2 separate regions of the Homo sapiens genome follow, and region 1 is linked to region 2. Evidence: fine-mapped expression QTL. Tissue or cell type: whole blood. Region 2 holds a variant in brackets; the other region holds the start of a gene. All regions are shown on one strand. Distances are from middle to middle.

Region 1 (8,453 bases), 23 kb before region 2:
CAGACTATCAGTCCTATTTTACAGAGGGGTAATTTAAATCATGGGTACATAGCCAAGAAGTGGCAGACCTGGGGCAGGATCCCAGGTCTCCTAACCCCCAAGTGAGGGCATTTCACACTCCATAGCACAGCAGGGCTGAACTGGGCTGAAGCAGATTAGAGGTGGTTTGGCAGGGTGTAGGGGGTGGTCAGAGCTCAGGAGTCCCTTTTCTGAGTGTCAGGGATGCTAAGACAAGGGAGGACAGCCCTGTAGCCCACCTGGGCATCACTGTTATTACAGGCTCAGCAGCACCTAAGGGAGAGGAGAACAAGACGGGAAGGGAAAGGCAGGGCTGTAGTTAACACACATCCTCCATCCCACCAGCCCTTCAGGCCTGGTCTTGCAGGCACTGGAGCTGGTTCCATGGGTTGCCAGAGGAAGCCTGAGAGAGGGAGGCTGGGAGAGGGGGCGGGGAACCTGATCCTGTGTATATGTCAATACCCAACAAAAACTTGTGTAGGGGGGTGGGGTGCATTTGGGTTACTGGAGTTACACAGACATGTGTGTACATGGATTGTGTGAAGGGGCTGCTCAAGTGCCGTGTGTGCACCATGTATGTGGGTGCACATACGCCTGTGTATATAGCGAGTCAGTGGGCTTGTGTCTCCTGGGTATTGTGCCAGGCATGTGGGTGAAGGCGCTGGAGTTCCTATGTGGCTTCGCTCAGCACCAGGATTGCAGACGGGTAGGGGCGGGCCTGCTCTGGGAGGAGGAGGGGAGGAATCATGTGCCCACCCACCCCCACATGGACCGGCTGCCCACCCTCCAACGTGGCAGCACGCAGGACAGCCCTTTTTGGATGGAAGGCCCCACGCTCCAAGAGAGAGAATCCAAGATTACAGAAATCGTGTTTTCCTGACTCATGCCTTGGGCTGAGAGCACATTCTTGGCTCCTGGACAGCATCTCAAAGAAGAGCTGCCTATAGCAGCCCTGGCTCCCTGAGGGAGGGGGCCGACCCTGGACTGGCTGTCGGAGCTTTCTGGGCTCCAATTTTATACCAATGTAAAAAGAAGGGGATTAAACTTCCTTCCGATTAACGTTCTATAATTAAAAGTGAGACACTAATGACGGTGCCCAGCACAGGCCTGGCAGCGGCAAAATGGCCCATAAATGTCACTTCCTTCTCGTCCACTCCCTGCCTTCCCGTGGATATGGCATAAACAGACCTGATTCAAAACCCAGCTCTGACTCTGGCTTGTTGTGTGCCCTTAACCCTGTTGCTTAGTCTCCCTGATCCTCAGTTTCTTCATGCTGAAAATTGGAACATTCTTCCTTACCTGAAAGGAATAAATATGATAATAAATGTGAATGTGTTGCACACTTAAATGACATGCAAGTTTTTGTCCTAGGATTCTATGGGGTGAAGACTGAGTGAATCTAGCCACTGGGGCCAAAGAAAGCTGTTTCCACAGCACCTGGCAGAACTGGGCCTACATACCCCCCTGGGTCATTAGAGGGTACTGTGGGAGAAAGAGGGCTGGGAGTCCAGGGCTTAGGCTCCAGCCCAGCCCCACCTCTGATATGCTGTGTGACCTTGGGTAAATTCCTGCCCTCTCTGGGCTTCCGTTGTCCTCTCTGTATAGTGTGGATGCAGTTGGACTTGATGGTTTTCTACTTTCTGCTGTCCACACCTCTCGGGACCTAGGGATCTAGAGGATTTCCAGCCAGCCTCCACGTGCCAGGCACCAGGACCACTTCCTTCAGTGAAGCGAGGCACTGGAGGAGTCCAGAGACAAAATGCTTGAGAGTTTCTCTGCTTATCAGACTCTTCTCCCCCACCCCCTAAAAGAGTGCTTTTTCCGGAAAGCTCTGCCTGGAATGTGGGGGAAGGGCCACAGTCAGTCTGGGCTGGGCTCAGAGCTAAGAATATTGTGGCAAAGGCTCTTGACTTTTTTTTTTTTTGCTGATCTTGGAAATTTAAAGGAGCCGTTGCTTTCCCTTCTTCAGGGAGGCTGTGCTAGGGGCACAGCAGCCTCAGGCAGCCACTTCTCATCCCCTGGCCAGCCATGCTTACCCAGTGCCTCTTCCATACTGTCCCCTTGCTGGAGCTGGGGACTCACAGTGACAAGGAAAAGGCCCTGCCCTTCCAAAGTCTCCAGTGATGGTTCACTGACAATACAGGGTGATAACAGAGATAATGCAGCAGTGGGATAGGTCACAGAGGAGGCTTCTGACCCGGTGTGAGATTAGTGGGGGTCGGATGGGGGTTGGGCCTTCAGACCCAGCCCTCCTTAGGCCTCAGCTTTGCTGTCTGTAAGGGCAGGTCCTCTCTTCAGTGACCACTCATGATACTGGGTCTATTTAACAGCATGAGCTTTGGTTTATCCCTCAAAATGGGACAGTCACAGCACTCTCAGTCTCCCCCTCAGGTGTTGGTGAAGCCTAAAAGAGCTAAGAGATGTAAGAGAGTAGAGGAAGGGAGTCTCACTGGGATTGTGACATCTGAACCTGCTGAAAACCCAGGCGACCCTCTCTGTTTTGCCAGCATTGATGGGCACTCTTTGTTTCTGCTCTGCCCTGCCCTCAGCTCACTGACCAAGTCACAAGGAAGCCTGAGGGCCAATGTGGGGGTGGGAGTAGAGAGTGGGGTCTGGCCTGGGACCCGGGAGGTCTCCTTGGATAAACAAGAATTTATCTTTTTTTTTTGAGATGGAGTCTCGCTCTGTCACCCATGCTGGAGTGCAGTGGCATGATCTCGGCTCACTGCAAACTCCACCTCCCAGGTTCAAGAGATTCTCCCGCCTCAGCCTCCTGAGTAGCTGGGATTACAGGCACATGACACCACAGCTGGCTAATTTTCATATTTTTATTAGAGATGGGGTTTCACCATTTTGGCCACGCTGATCTTGAACTGCTGACCTCAGGTGATCCACCCACCTCGGCCTTCCAAAGTGCTGGGATTACAGGCATGAGCCACCGCGCCCAGCCTAGAATTTATCTTTAAAAGCAATATACAGTTGAGGCAGGAGGAAGCACATGAGAACCACGACAGCCACCCCAAAGAGATGGACACCATGCCAAGGCTGGAAGCTTTTGTTAATAATCAGACCTGTCCTAAAAAAGAATGCGGGGCTGCCTCTGAAGGAGGTAAGCTCTCTCTTCTTAGAGGTGCCTCGGTGCTTGCCTTTTTGGGATACTGAGAAGAGGGCTTCTGCCTGGGGCTGCAGACAGGAACCCCTGACCTCTGAGATGCCTTGCAGCTCAGAGTCTTTAATACATTTATTCCAGAATCCTTCGACTCTGAGATTTTAACATGTTAAGATTCCTTAGCTGGATTCAAAGACTCCTTGGGGGCTTTGAGTGGAAGTAATCTCTGATTCCTTGACCCTGAATCACAGAGTCTGAAGCTTTTGGGATCTGAGATTTCCCACAGTCCTTGTACTCAAAAGACTCTGAGCTGCAGAAGCCTACCCAGACAGAGAGGTTTGTCACCACCACCAGGCTTCCCCACAACCACTAACAGAGGGCAGGGACCCAGGTGATTGACTCATTTGCTGGGTACTGGGATTTTTTTGCTCCCCAGGATCCAGGCAAGCACCTAGAAGAAAGAAGATACTCAATGCATTCATTCATGACTGAATGAATGAAGAGTCCCTACCCTGTCCCTTCCTCTCCATACTGCGTCCATCCAATAGCTATCATTAAACTACTAAAGAGGACTTTTCGGAGGGTAGGGAGCCTCGGCTGATCAGAAATTGAGCCACTGTCGCCCAGATTATTTAGGGTTTCCTAAATAATCTGCCTCACTGAATCACTGAATTCCCTACTAACAGGTACATACCCCACAGATGGACATCGCACAGGGCAAGGACTTTGTTCAGCTCTCAGCTGTGTCCTCAGCACCTAGAACAGTAATGAATACCCTAGCTTAACTTGGAGGTCAAGGAGCTATCAGTTTGCGAGGGTGGGGTAGGAATTGACAGTGAGACCTGAGGCCTGTGGGAGGGGACCCAAAGAGGGAGGGGATGCAATAGGGAGGGGGCCAGGGGTGACAAGGATTGAGGAAGGGAGAGAGGGGGGAAAAAAAGCAAGGGATGCCTTAGAACCACATTTCACAGCCAAGGGAACAGAGGCCCAGAAAGGGAAAGTAACCTGCTTAGGGTCACACAGCACCTTGCTCAGTGGAGAGCCAGGTTTTCCTTCCTGTGCACTCCTCCAAGCCCAGCCAGACCACCTGAAGTTCCCCAGGCATCTCTGCCTCTATTACTCCACGACTTGAACTTTCCGGGTGCCGGGCAGGTACCGGGTCTGGTCTGCTCCCTCTCCCTCTGGCCATCGCTGAGGTTGAGGTTTTTTGAATGTACAAGTATGGAGAAGGGCACTGCCTTCAGAAGCCTGAACGTCTCCCCTGAGAGGGAGGGGGTGCACAGGACTCAATTGTTTCAGCTTGAAAATGGGGGAGAGCGGGGAGAAGGGGAGATGGCTCTGCTTGGGGCAGAGCCCCTGCGGGGAAAGGGGCGCCTGAAAGGACGTGCGATTCGGAGTGGGCTAGCTTATGCAGAGAGCCTGGGGGTGGGAGGAAGCTCGCACTCTGAAGGACACGCTGATCCCCGTGGGGACTCCCGGCGCCCCGCAGCCCGGGCCGCCGAGGGAGGCAGTAGGACCCAGGGGCCGGGAGGCGCCGGCAGAGGGAGGGGCCGGGGGCCGGGGAGGTTTTGAGGGAGGTCTTTGGCTTTTTTTGGCGGAGCTGGGGCGCCCTCCGGAAGCGTTTCCAACTTTCCAGAAGTTTCTCGGGACGGGCAGGAGGGGGTGGGGACTGCCATATATAGATCCCGGGAGCAGGGGAGCGGGCTAAGAGTAGAATCGTGTCGCGGCTCGAGAGCGAGAGTCACGTCCCGGCGCTAGCCCAGCCCGACCCAGGTGAGGGGCGGGAGACGCCTGCGTGCGTGCGGCCCGGGGGAGCGCCGAGCAATCTGGGGGTGCGCGAGGGAGTAAGAGGGGCGAGGGGACCCTGCGAAGCGTTGGGTGCCGAGCCAGAGCCTACAAATTGGAGTCCTCGGCACTTTGGGGGCCGCTGGAGGGTTTGGAATCGAGAGCCCAGGGCTAGCCAGTGATGGTGCCAGCTGAGGGCTAGGGCGGAGATCGGAGCCGGGTTGGGAGTCCGTGCACTCGGAGGACTGGGAAAAAGTGCAGGGACCCCTAAAAGGTGGTGGTGGCAGATACGAGACTAGGTGCTGTGTAAAGGGGGCTGGGGGCAGAGAGCAGAGCCTCTGCGGAAAGAAACAGAGGAGGAAGGAGATGGGTCTGGTGCCTCTTCCCGCAAGGGTAGGGAGGATAGGCCGGCCTCGCAGTTCCAGGTCACTTCCGTTCTGGGGTTGAGGCTCAGGGGCAGCGGTGATTGGTGGCCCAGCCTCCTCACAGGCTTGCTGAGGGAATTTGAGCTTCCGGTGGTGGGAAAGGAGGTGAAATCGTCTCGACTCCTGGGGTCCGTGTGCTCTGGTAGAAGTGGGCGACAGTGGCTCAATTTCTGATCAGCAGCTTGCAGCCTAGATGATGGCAGCCAAAGGAAAGACTTGGCCAGCGAGGCTCCCTACCACTCCGAAAAAAGAGAGTGGGGGTCAGCAGGGTCTGCTCTGCTCTGGGGATTAAGGGGCTGACTAGAAGGATTTGAGTCTTTCCTTCTGTCCACTGCCACAGGGTTCTTGGAGTAACTGCAGGGTTTAAACTGCAGGGTCTAACTTCCAGAGGCTGGGGTTCCCTGCCCCCCAGCTTAGAGACATTCCTGAGGTGGCTGAAGAGCAGGAAGGAGAATGAATGCACTTCCAGACTGGCCCAGAGTCTCAGCCCCTCCTCTTCCTTGTTTCCCGCTGGTCCCTCTGGGCTGTACGGCCCGGATGGAGGCCTGAGGAAAATGAGGGGGCTTTGGTTCTCCGGAATTCCGGCCGGGGCCACACCCTCCTGTCTTCAGATGGTTCATGTACCCATCCCCCCTTCCCGTCCTCTCCTTTGTCTCCTCTGTCACCGGGACTCCCAGCAGAGATTTTTTTTTTGTACTGGCTGTGTAACAGGACACCGCATGCAGCCCTCAGGAGGGGCTCTGTGCTTCTGTGAGGAAGGACCCCTGTGCTGGGAAGGCAGACCCCTGTTTATCCCGAGGGACCTGGGGTGACCCCCTGCCCTGGCCTTGTTTCTCCCATTTTACAGTGAGGTGGTCGATCTCCAAGGTCCCTGTAGATTGGGGACTGGTTGTGCCCTCTGCGCCAGGGGCCTCCTCACCATCTCTCCTTTGCCGGCTCCCGCCCTCTTCACTCTTCTGTTTTCTTTCAGAATGAAAAAGGCAGGCATTGACCTCCCTCTGAGGCAGTTTCCAGGTACTTTAGACCTCTCAAGTGTTTGGGACCCTCTGGTGGGGTCCCATCATCTCCTCCCCTTCCCTTCCAGACCCTGCTCAGTCCAGCTAGCTGTGGGCACAGCCCTGGCTAGGTGATCTTGTATTTTCTTTGTGGGACTGTAACTCAGCTAACCTTGGCCTGAGGGCTGGCATTTCTCTGTGGCAAGATGGGCTGGGCTGTGGGAGGCTGGCCTGCTTGCAGTAACTTGCCTTCCCCCATTCCTGCTGCTGGGTTCAGTGGGGCTGCCCTTCTCCCCAGTAGCGCATTTCCCTTCAGAGATTCATGTGCGGATGGGAAGGGAACTAAGGCCAAGAAGGCTCCTGGAGTCCCCTGGCAAATATGTGGCACCCCCTGGGACCTGAGTCAGGCCTGCTTCCCAGGCTGGAAGCCCCCCTCTGCCGGCCGGTGGAGATAGTTCAGCCTCCTGCCTGCCACGTCACCACCAGGAGCAGGCGCTAAGCTGCTGCGGGCCTAGCGGGCTGCCTGAGGAATCCCAAACCAGTTATTTGGAGCTTGCTTGAGAAGCCCCTCCCAGTCCTTTGAGGTTCTGGCTGGTGGGGGTGGGGGCTGTCAAGATGGTACCTGCCACGTGGCATGGCTGGGAGTGGGCTCTTCAGCTGCCTCCTCAGGGAAGGAAGGCTGTTGGCCTCTGCTGTGGTCTGAGCTCCAGCATCACTGGTCTGGATCAGAGGTGGCTTTTGAGTAGGGTGGCCATATGCCTATTGTCCTGGCATAATAATTAGTAGTGCCCATTTTACTCTTATAAGTGTCCTTGTTTGTGCAATAAATTATATGGTTGCTCTGCCTTTGAGGCTCCAGTTCTGGCAGGGAAGGAGCCAGAGCTGGGAGGGAGGTGTCTTGGGGTTTATTCTAGGCCCCAAGATATCCCCTTCATTTTAGGGTGAGACTCAGATCTCCCCGCTCCTTCCAGACATTTTTAGATCTCTGGGCCTTCCCTCCTCTCCCCACCTCCCTCCCCTTGGACCCTTTGCTTATCTTATACTGCACCTTCAAGGCTCCGAGGAGGGAGGCAGTCCCGGGAGATGGGGAGCCTGTCCAGGTTTTTGGGATGGCAGCAGTAGAATCTTCCCAGAAATACAGTGGTCCCCAGGCAGCCAGAGTCCTGAGGGTCTTCCACCAGGATTTCAAATGTTCGGTCTTCTTCAAGGATGACTACAAGTTGGGATCTACCAGAGCAGTGGGATCGCAGCCTCCACCAGGATTCCTTCTATCCTTCCCTTTGCCCTGTCATCTCTCCTGTGCTGTTGCATGATGTAGAGGAGGATAATGGCCCGAAGGGAGAGAGGGAGTGTGGAAGTATCCCAGGAACAGAGACTGTCCAAATTGGAGGCCCCAGAGAGGGAACTGGGGCTTGTCCTTGGGGCCACTGCTACTGCTGGGGCTTGGGGAGGAGGCCTGAGGGCAACCCTGAAGCCGTGGAGCAGATGGCCTGTGTGGCAGTGGCTGTCAGATTGGAGGGCAGAATGGAATCTGATGTGGCTCCAGCTTCTTTGAAGGCTGAGTGCACATCTGGCCAGCTGCTGGTGATGGGGAAGGGGGTCACTGCTCTATTGAGCTATGTGTGACTCACCCTTTTCCCTAGTATCCTGTCCTTGTGCTATGTCAGGAAGCCTCCTCCCCAGCCCCACCGAGTCTTCAAAGGAGTTGGTCCCCCAGGAGCTTTTGTCCTGGGGATTTCCCATCCGCACTGGGAGCACTGTGGGTAGATGGGCATTCCAAGTTCCTGCCCAGACAGAAGCCATGGGCATGGAGACCTGGACCTTTCAGCTTGGAAAAGGGAGACTGAGGCTGAGTGGACACAGGACACACACACACACACTCTCAGGGTCACCCTTGGGGCAGCAAAGTGGAGCATCTTGGCTCCCCATTTAATGAGTGACCCAACTGGTGACTCATTAACATCCCAGAGCAGAATGAAAGGCATGGGGGCGGGGCAGCCCTCCGGCTCTGTCCCTCATCCCTTGCCCAGGCATCTGGGTTTCCTGCAGATTCTCAGCTCAGCTGCTGCTTTTTCTCACTGGAAAAGGGCTCCCAGGGCTATGTGAGATCAGGGCTGACCA
Region 2 (8,453 bases):
TGCAAAATGAAAGACAACTTGCTGGGCTTTCTGCCTCTTACTGCTAATAAGCACAACACTTCTTGGGCTTCTATGTATTCTGGAAGCAAAATATATTGGTGTGTTTCTCTGATCCTTATAAGGTTATTGAGTAACCTATAAGGCTGCAGGGTTGGAGTGGGGTCCAGAGAAAAGGAAAGTTTCCAGGTGGTCCAGAATGAAAGGCAAGCAGCTCTGCCACATGGCCCTGATAGCCCAGCCGATCCCAAGATGGCTCAAGTGTCTGCGGCAGATGGGATGGTATTTGAACCCATGGCAAACTCTGATAGAAGAATCAAAATGGAGTATCTACAATTTAGGAGTGAAGCCTGGTGCTCCTTAGCAAGCAGTTTTCCTCCTTTTGGGGAAGGACTCTTGGCTCACTGCTGGCTGGGCTTAGCTGACAGTGGTCTCAGTGTGGGAGGCACCAAGGGATTGTGAAAGTAATTAATGACTGTAACACACAGTGTGTTCTTTTCTCAGGGATACTTGGGTTATATGTGCTCAGTGGTTGCTAAATGAGATGTCAGTAAATTATGCATCAGGTATGAAAACACACTTGACTTCTCTCCTTTCTTATCCCCCTTATCCGAAATCGGGCTTCTGTTTCTTCTACTCTAGAGAGTCTACAATTGCCAAAGTCAGTGATCTCTTTATTGCTACTTTAAAAAAAACTAATTTCAGCCGGATGCAGTGGCTCATGCCTGTAATCCCAGCACTTTGGGAAGCCGAGGCGGGCAGATCGCGAGGTCAAGAGATCGAGACCATCCTGGCCAACATGGTGAAACCCCATCTCTACTAAAAATACAAAAAATTAGCTGGGCATGGTGGCATGCGCCTGTAGTCCCAGCTACTCGGGAGGCTGAGGCAGGAAAATCACTTGAACCTGGGGGGCGGAGGTTGCAGTGAGCCGAGATCACACCACTGCACTCCAGCCTGGCAACAGAGTGAGACTCCATCTCAAAACAACAACAACAACAAAAAAAACTAATTTCGCGCCTATGAAAAAAATTCCAACATACATGACAATTAAATAATAGTACACATAGCTGGGCACGGTGGCTCACGCCTGTAATCCCAGCACTTTGGGAGGCTGAGGCGGGCAGATCCTGAGGTCAGGAGTTCAAGACCAGCCTGACCAACATGGTGAAATCCTGTTTCTGCTAAAAATACAAAAATTAGCTAGGCGTGGTGGTGTGCGCCTGTAGTCCCAGCTACTCGGGAGGCTGAGACAGGAGAATCACTTGAACCTGGGAAGCGGAGGTTGCAGTGAGCGGAGATTTCACTACCACACTCCAGCCTGGCCGACAGAGTGAGACTCCATCTCAAAATAAATAAATAATAGTACCCATCACAAAACTTCAATATGTAACGACATTTTGCCCATTTTGTTCAACAGATTCTAAATCCATATTGCAGGGAAGCCGTTATGGTCTCTAACCCTGTTAACTCTTCATCCTTGATGTCTTCCCCAAGGTGACATTCCTTTCTAGTTTTCTTCTGACTCCTCTGCTGCTTTAGGGCAGCCTCCACTTGGGGGCTCCTTCTTTTGCCTGTCCCCTGAATGTGGGTGTTTCCCAGCGCTCTGACCTGACCCCATCCGTCTCTCGCTTTCCACACTCCTGCTGGGTAAACTCACCCTCTCTCATAGCCTTTTTACCTTCTGTGGGTTGGCGAGGCTCACATTTCAATGAGGTCTGCATCTCCGCCTTCAGCTCAGACCCTTTTCCCAGTCTCAGACCACCATGTCCAGAAGTCTGGACACCAAATTGAGTCCATCCTCCTGCCAAAACAAGCTGTTTCCTGGATTCCCATTAATCCACACAACAATAGAGATCTACTCATATTTATTAGATACCAATTTTTATGTAAGAAAAAAATGTAAGATTCTGGAACAAGCCAAAGAAATTACTGCTACATGAAAAAGATGGACAATAACAAGTGTTGGTAAGGATGTGGAGAAACTGGAACCCTCCTACACTGTGGGTGGGAATGTAAAACAGTGAAGCCCTGGCCCACCCAGAACCAGAATAAACGCCGTAGAGGATTTTTCCCCTTTTCCCCCCACTTCAAGAGATGGGCTCTTGAGCACAGTAGAATGATCAGAGCTCACTGCAGCCTTGAGCTCCTGGGTTCAAGCCTCAGCCTCCGAAATAGCTGGAACTACAGGCATGCACCACCACACCCAGCAGAGGATGTTGAACTGATGGCCCAAGGTGGAGAGGGAGTGAAAGTGCAGGTGCTTTGATGGATGAGGGATGGAGTGGCTTCCCTCCGGGAATGAAGGTGTGCAGAAAGGGCCACGCGCCTGCGGGCTGGGTTGCAGGGCCTCTGAGGGATGGGCTCAGATGTGGAAGCTATAGGAATGCCTGGGCAAACTGGGCAGAAATACCACAACCTGGGCAGGCTTTGGGAGGTCCCCAGCCAAGCCCTAGGGAGAGGGAGAGGGGCTGCCAGCCCCCCGGCTTGGGCTCAGGGAAGCCATAGTGATTCTTCTCAGGATGGCCTGAACCTCCTGGAATTGTGATAAGCCCCAAAGACAGGATGAGGCTCCAGGAAAATGACTAATATCAGATTTCCTGTCAACCGTGGCAACGAGAGAAGGGGGCTCCCAGTCTATTTAATTAGATTTACCAAAATAAAGACGTGGCATTTCTTACACCTGAGTGCCATGCTGTGATGCATAGACTGAATTACAAATTGTGAGATGGGTGAGGTAAGAGGGGGTGGCCATAGAGATAGTGAAAAGTGGGCAAATTTGCTATTTAGCAGGAAGGCCAGGCAGGTCTTACTGATAGTTTGGAAGCTGAGGGTCGGAGACTGGTACTGAAAAGGATTTCCCGGTTTCTGGCTGAGAACTGGGTCAACCCGAGTGCATTCCCACCCACTTCCTCTAGACCATCCATCCACTCAGCGGCACAGACTCCCGAAAGTGTCGCTCCAGTCCGAGTTGGCTCCTGTCCCTTGTCCACATAGACCGTCTCCCCGCTCCCCCAATATGGCACAAGGTGCCTAGGCCGTGTGGGGCGTCGGCAGGTATCACGGGTGGGGTCCATTGTGTGAGGACTAACATCGCGGCCTTTCCCCAGACCAGCCACCGGGGACTCCAGAGAGGCCTCGGCCCAGCTCCCGGAAAGGGTCTCCCAGCCAGGCCTTCTAGCGGCCCAAAGCGGGTAGGCAGAGCGCAGATACCGGGGCCTCTTTCGCCCACCCTCGCCAGGGCACTATCCTTCCCACCGGCCCGATCCCGCGTCCCGAGGTCTCGCGGGGCCAGGCTGCACGGG[C/A]GGCGGAGCCCGGAGCCCGGGGCGGGGCCGGAGATGAGCCTGCAGGCGGGGGGCTGTGCGAGTGCGCGGGGACGGGGGCTGCTGTTTCCGAGCCGAGAGCCCTGGTAGCGGGGCTCTGTGGGCGGAGACGCCCTCCCGAGCCTGGGCATCTTCGGAGTGGGACTCTCGGGTCGGAGTTCCGCCGCCGGCCCATCCAGTTTCAGCGGGTCGCCTTTGCCTCTGGGCCGGGTGGGGAGCCTCCCATTCCAGAGACCCCCCGACTCCCTGCCCCTCGCGGCGTAGGGGCGCCCTTTCTGCGGCGCCGCGGGGCCGTCCTCTCCCCTCCCCGGGCGGCTGCAGCAGGGGCGCGGGAGCCCGCGGACTGCGGGGTTGCGGTCGCCCCTGCTTTGTGAGTTCCCGCAGCTGGGAGGAAGAAGGAGAGGAGGGAGGAGGGAGAGGTGGGGAAGGGGACGCCGCGGGAGACTGGGAAGTGGCTGCCGCAGGGAGGAGCTAGGCCTCGAGTGAAGCCTGCTTGTAAGAAGGGCCAGGAGAGTCGGGTGCGCCCCCGCCCTCCCTGCCCCACCCCAAGATGGGGACCCAGAGCCCCTCCTCCCGCACTGGGCCTTCTTTCTGGGTAGTGGAGGGCTGGACTGGACTGAGCTGGGAAGGCCTGCAGCTCAGAGGCGCTGCTCTGTGCGTCAGGACCGGCTTGCAAATGAAGATGTTGAGGGGCTGGCTCTGGGCTCATAGCAGAAACTGCCAGATCTAGCGGCCACCCCTCAGTCCTCATCTGCGCCGGCCCTCCCAGCTTTCGACCCGGCCTCACTGTCTCCTGATTGAATCACTCCGGGCACCACAGTTCCCTGGTTCCTCCTTACAGCTCCGGGCCAGCCCCTCTGAACTTTTTCTGGGCGATTCTCTCTGACCTCTTAAGTCCGCAACGCTTGGAACAGGACCCACATCTCTTTCCATTCTGACACTCTCTGAGGGAGCGCAGCGTCCTTCATGTGGGGCTTGTGACCATCCTCCCCCCAGCCCCAGGGCAGCTGACTACCAGGCCCTGTTTCCAGACGTCTCTTCAGAGGTCAAGCCTTGGTAGCCAGTGGCCTGGACATCTGCCCCCGGGTGTCTCGGAGGCCCTCAGGGAAACCTTGTTCTGCTTCTCAGAGATGGCGCCACGGTTCGCTTGGCCTGTGGAAACGTGTGTGTCATGGGACCTGGTGTGTGGGTCAGAGGAAGGACTGGGAGGAGGAGGAAGGTGTCCACATGCGATTTTTTTTTTTGAGACAGAGTCTCGCTCTATCGCCCGGGCTGGAGTGCAGTGGCTAGATCTCAGCTCACTGCAATCTCTGCCTCCCAGGTTCAAGCGATTCTCGTGCCTTAGCCTCCCAAGTAGCTGGGATTACAGGTGCCTGCCACTACACCCAGCTAATTTTGGTATATTTAGTAGAGACAGGGTTTCACCATGTTGGTCAGGCTGCTCTTGAACTCCTGACCTCAAATAATCCACCCACCTCGGCCTCCCAAAGTCCTGGGATTACAGCCGTGAGCCATCGAGCCCGACCTTCACACGCAATTCTTTAGCCTCAATGTGGCCTTGTCTTATCTTCAGGTTTCTGACTATTGGAGCTCATATGGCAGCAAGCTCTGAGGGCTACTTTTGTGTTGGGCCAAAAAAAGCCAACCTCACTGTGAAGAAACGTCTCTCTCTCTCTTTCTCTGTGTGTGTGTGTGTGTGTGTTTGTGTGTGTATAGACAAAACCCTAGTGCTGTTGGGAACGGGGTGAGGAGGCAGGCTTGGGGCCAGTTGGATGGGGAAGGCTTGCTTAGAAAACTAGACTATTTGGGTGTCCTCCATACTGTATTTCCTCTGATGATTTTCCTGTAAGAACTGAGCTGAGCTCCTTTGAAAGGGATAGCAGTATTCCTTGGGAGCCAGCTTTGGTGGGGGCAACTGGTGGAGCCTCCACCCTAGCTTCTTGGGGGCTCTGGGCTTTGAAAGGGAGGCTGTAATATGGCCTTGCGGCCCCTGCCAGTGGCATCCCGGCCGGACCCATCTTTGACTGAGGCTGAGCCCCAGGCCCGCTGGCAGCTCCCAGCCGTCCTCCCCACAGCCTGGCTGTGGCTGTTCCTCGGCCTGCCAGCCCCACAATCACAGCCCACAGGACGCACCCCCACTCCCTCCCTGATTTCCTGGAATTCAGAAAATGGATCACCCCTGCCTCGTCCTAGTTTTCCACCCCAGAGACCTGCCATACCCTTGGTCAAGTCCTCATGCAAACCAGATTCCTTTCATTCAAGGACTTTCAGAGGGAGCGTTACCCGGTCCTCAGCCACACCCATGCCGCCCTGTCTGCCCTGTCTGGACTGCCTAGACTCCATCAGAACTCCACAGCCACTTTCTCTGGAAAGCCTTCCTGGCTGCTCTTGCCAGGTGTTCTCTCTTCACTGGCCTCTCAAAGCCAGGTCTTGACTTGTCCTAGGGCCTCATCCCATACCATGTTTTATTGTCATAATATTCTTTCCCATAGTGACCCCAGTGCTCAGCACTGAGCCTGGCACAAAGTGCATGCTAAGGACAAGCTTGCTGCACGGAGAAATGAATGGGGACTTCAGATATACATACACACACACACACATATATATATACACGTATATATATATATATATATATATATACGTGTATATATATATATACGTGTATATATATATATACACACACACATACATACATACACATACACACGCTTTTTTTTTTTGAGACCGAGTCTCGCTCTGTCGCCCAGGCTGGAGCCAGGCTAGAGTGCAGTGGCACAATCTCGGCTCATTGCAACCTCTGCCTCCCAGGTTCAAGTGATTCTCCTGCCTCAGCCTCCTGAGTAGCTGGGTTTACAGGTGCCTGCCACCGCACCCAGCTAATTTTTTTATTTTTAGTAGAGACAGGGTTTTTACCATGTTGGCCAGGCTGGTCTCGAACTCCTGACCTCAGGTGATCCACCCACCTAAGCCTCCCGAAGTGCTGGGATTACAGGCGTGAGCCACTGTGCCTGGCTCTAGGTATATTCTTTAGAAGCTCTCAGTTGAGCTGTCATGGATATTGAATGAGGATTAGCAGGTGTTAGGTTATACAGTGTCCTGAGACTTATGATCAGAGCCTGGTTTCCTCAAGAAGTTTGACCCCTGGATGAGCTTTAAGGCTGAGCTCTTGGCAAACAACTGTCATCCAGAATTCCCCTGTGCCAGGTGGGTCCCTGCTCCTGTTTCATCTGCAGGCTTCAACTCAGCTACCCAGGGCTCAGCCTGCTGGGATTTGGCACCTCTTGTGAGGCTGTCATGGTATCTGACCCTTGCCTTATCCTGCCCACCTCCGTGATGGGGTCCTGTTTCCATCTAGCATCGCCTACCCACTCCCATCTCATGCTGACAACTCACAGGAACTGGTGCTTCTCAGACCCCTCTGGTCCAGACGGGTGAATGCAGAGCCTGACAGGCCCACCTATACACATGTATGCACCCCTGCCCAACAGAGACAGAGAGAAACATTGCTGAGCCAGAGGGACCATTTTTATTAGATTCCAGCAAGACTACTGTACATGTTTCATGCAGATTAAATATGTGTCTTCACTGCCCCTGGGAGGGGAGCACTCTCACTGTCAGCTCCTTCATTGGTGTGTCAAGGGGTGAGTGTCAAGGGGAGCTCTCAATGTATTCCGTATGGGGGGCAGTTGGGATCATGACTCGGGGTAGAGGTGAGACAGTAGGTAGCTGAGGGTCCCTGGGACCTTGAGTCTTCAGAGGTTCAGGGACTGCAGGACCTTGGTCCTTTGCTGGTACTGGCACCAGAGGATCTTGATCCTTCAGAGGCACTGGGACTATAGGAACTTGATTCTTCAGAGGTTCAGGGACTATACGACCTTGATTCTTTGGAGGCTGTAGGACTGTGGGGCCTTGATCCTTAACTAGTACTGGGAGAATGGGGTCTTGATTCTTCACGGACTCGGGGACCACAGGACCTTGATTCTTTACAGGTGCCACAACTGCAGAATCGTGAACCTTTGCATGCTCTGGGACTACAACATCTTGATCCTTGACTGGCCCTGAGACCACTAAACCTTGATTCTTTACAGGCTCAGAGACCATGGAACCTTGATTCTTTATGGGTGCTGTGGCCATGGCACTTTCATCCTTCGGATGCTCTGGGACCATGGGATCTTGATCCTTGATAGGTGCTGAGACCATGGGACCTTCATCCTTGACAGGTGCTGGGACTATGGGACCTTCACCCTTGACAGGTGCTGGGACTATGGGACCTTGATCCTTGACAGGTGCTGAGACCATGGGACCTTGATCCTTGACAGATGCTGAGACCATGGGACCTTCATCCTTGACAGGTGCTGGGACCATAGGAGCTTGATTCTTCACAGGCTCAGGAATCCTAGGACCTTGATCCTTTAGAGACTCTGGTACCACAGAGCCTTGATCCTTAACTTTTGCTGGAACCATAGGACTTTGATTCTTTGGAGGAACTGGGACCGAGGGACCTTGGTCCTTGACTGGTGCTGAGATAACAGGGCTTTCATTCTTTAAAGGCTCAGGGACCGTGTGATCTTGATCCTTGACTGGTAATGGGATCATGGGACCTAGATCCTTTGGAGGCCCTGGGACCACAGAACCTTGCTTCTTCAGAGGCTCTTGCACCATAGGACCTTGACCTTTCAGAAGGCCTGGGACCACAGAACCTTGATCCTTGTCTGGCTCTGTGGCTACAGGACCTTGAGTCTTACTTGAATCACTGACGGGTTGAGCCAGGCTCCTGCAAAGGAGAGAGAGGTGATCACTGTGAGAGTAGAGCTCAGGCAGGGACAGGGCAGAGTACAGATTGCCTAATAAGTCTTGGCCTAGTGGAGCCTGGGCCGGGCAGCTCTTGCTGGAGAGCCAGGAGAATATGATTTCTGTGTTCTTAGTACAGAATGTGGGCGGGGGTGAGGGAGGGGGGTGAGGTGAAGGCTCAGGAATCAGTCATTCAATGTGCTTGCCAATTGATTATAACCTGCACGTGGCACAGGGGGTGGCACGCTGGTGACAATGGCAGTACTGTAGCTGGACTCGGAGTCATCCAGTAGGCATCCCAGCAGCCCGTCCACCCCACATTCCATCCAGGTCCCTACTTTT

The links. PIP is the estimated chance that this variant, and not a neighbour inherited with it, causes the effect.
Region 1: it holds the start of SERPINH1, and the variant in region 2 is fine-mapped to the expression of SERPINH1 in whole blood (TOPMed, PIP above 0.99). The same link has a PIP of 0.9 or more in blood mononuclear cells and monocytes.

Annotation. Positions count from the first base shown.
Region 1 is chr11:75,557,420-75,565,872 of GRCh38, forward strand. SERPINH1 (serpin family H member 1) reads left to right here and starts at 4,834. Exons shown (of 5, transcript NM_001235.5): 1 at 4,834-4,900. RefSeq lists cis regulatory regions at 825-1,055, 1,528-2,378, enhancers at 1,391-1,932, 4,514-5,053, 5,054-5,594, 5,595-6,133 and silencers at 4,570-4,829, 4,840-4,889.
Region 2 is chr11:75,580,091-75,588,543 of GRCh38, forward strand. It overlaps MAP6 (microtubule associated protein 6), which reads right to left. Exons shown (of 4, transcript NM_033063.2): 4 at 6,828-8,094. The coding sequence ends at 6,969. MAP6-AS1 (MAP6 antisense RNA 1) reads left to right here and starts at 3,106. Exons shown (of 2, transcript NR_145823.1): 1 at 3,106-3,191. RefSeq lists silencers at 3,124-3,233, 3,244-3,393 and an enhancer at 4,140-4,719. The variant C/A (reference allele first, on the strand shown) is at 3,303.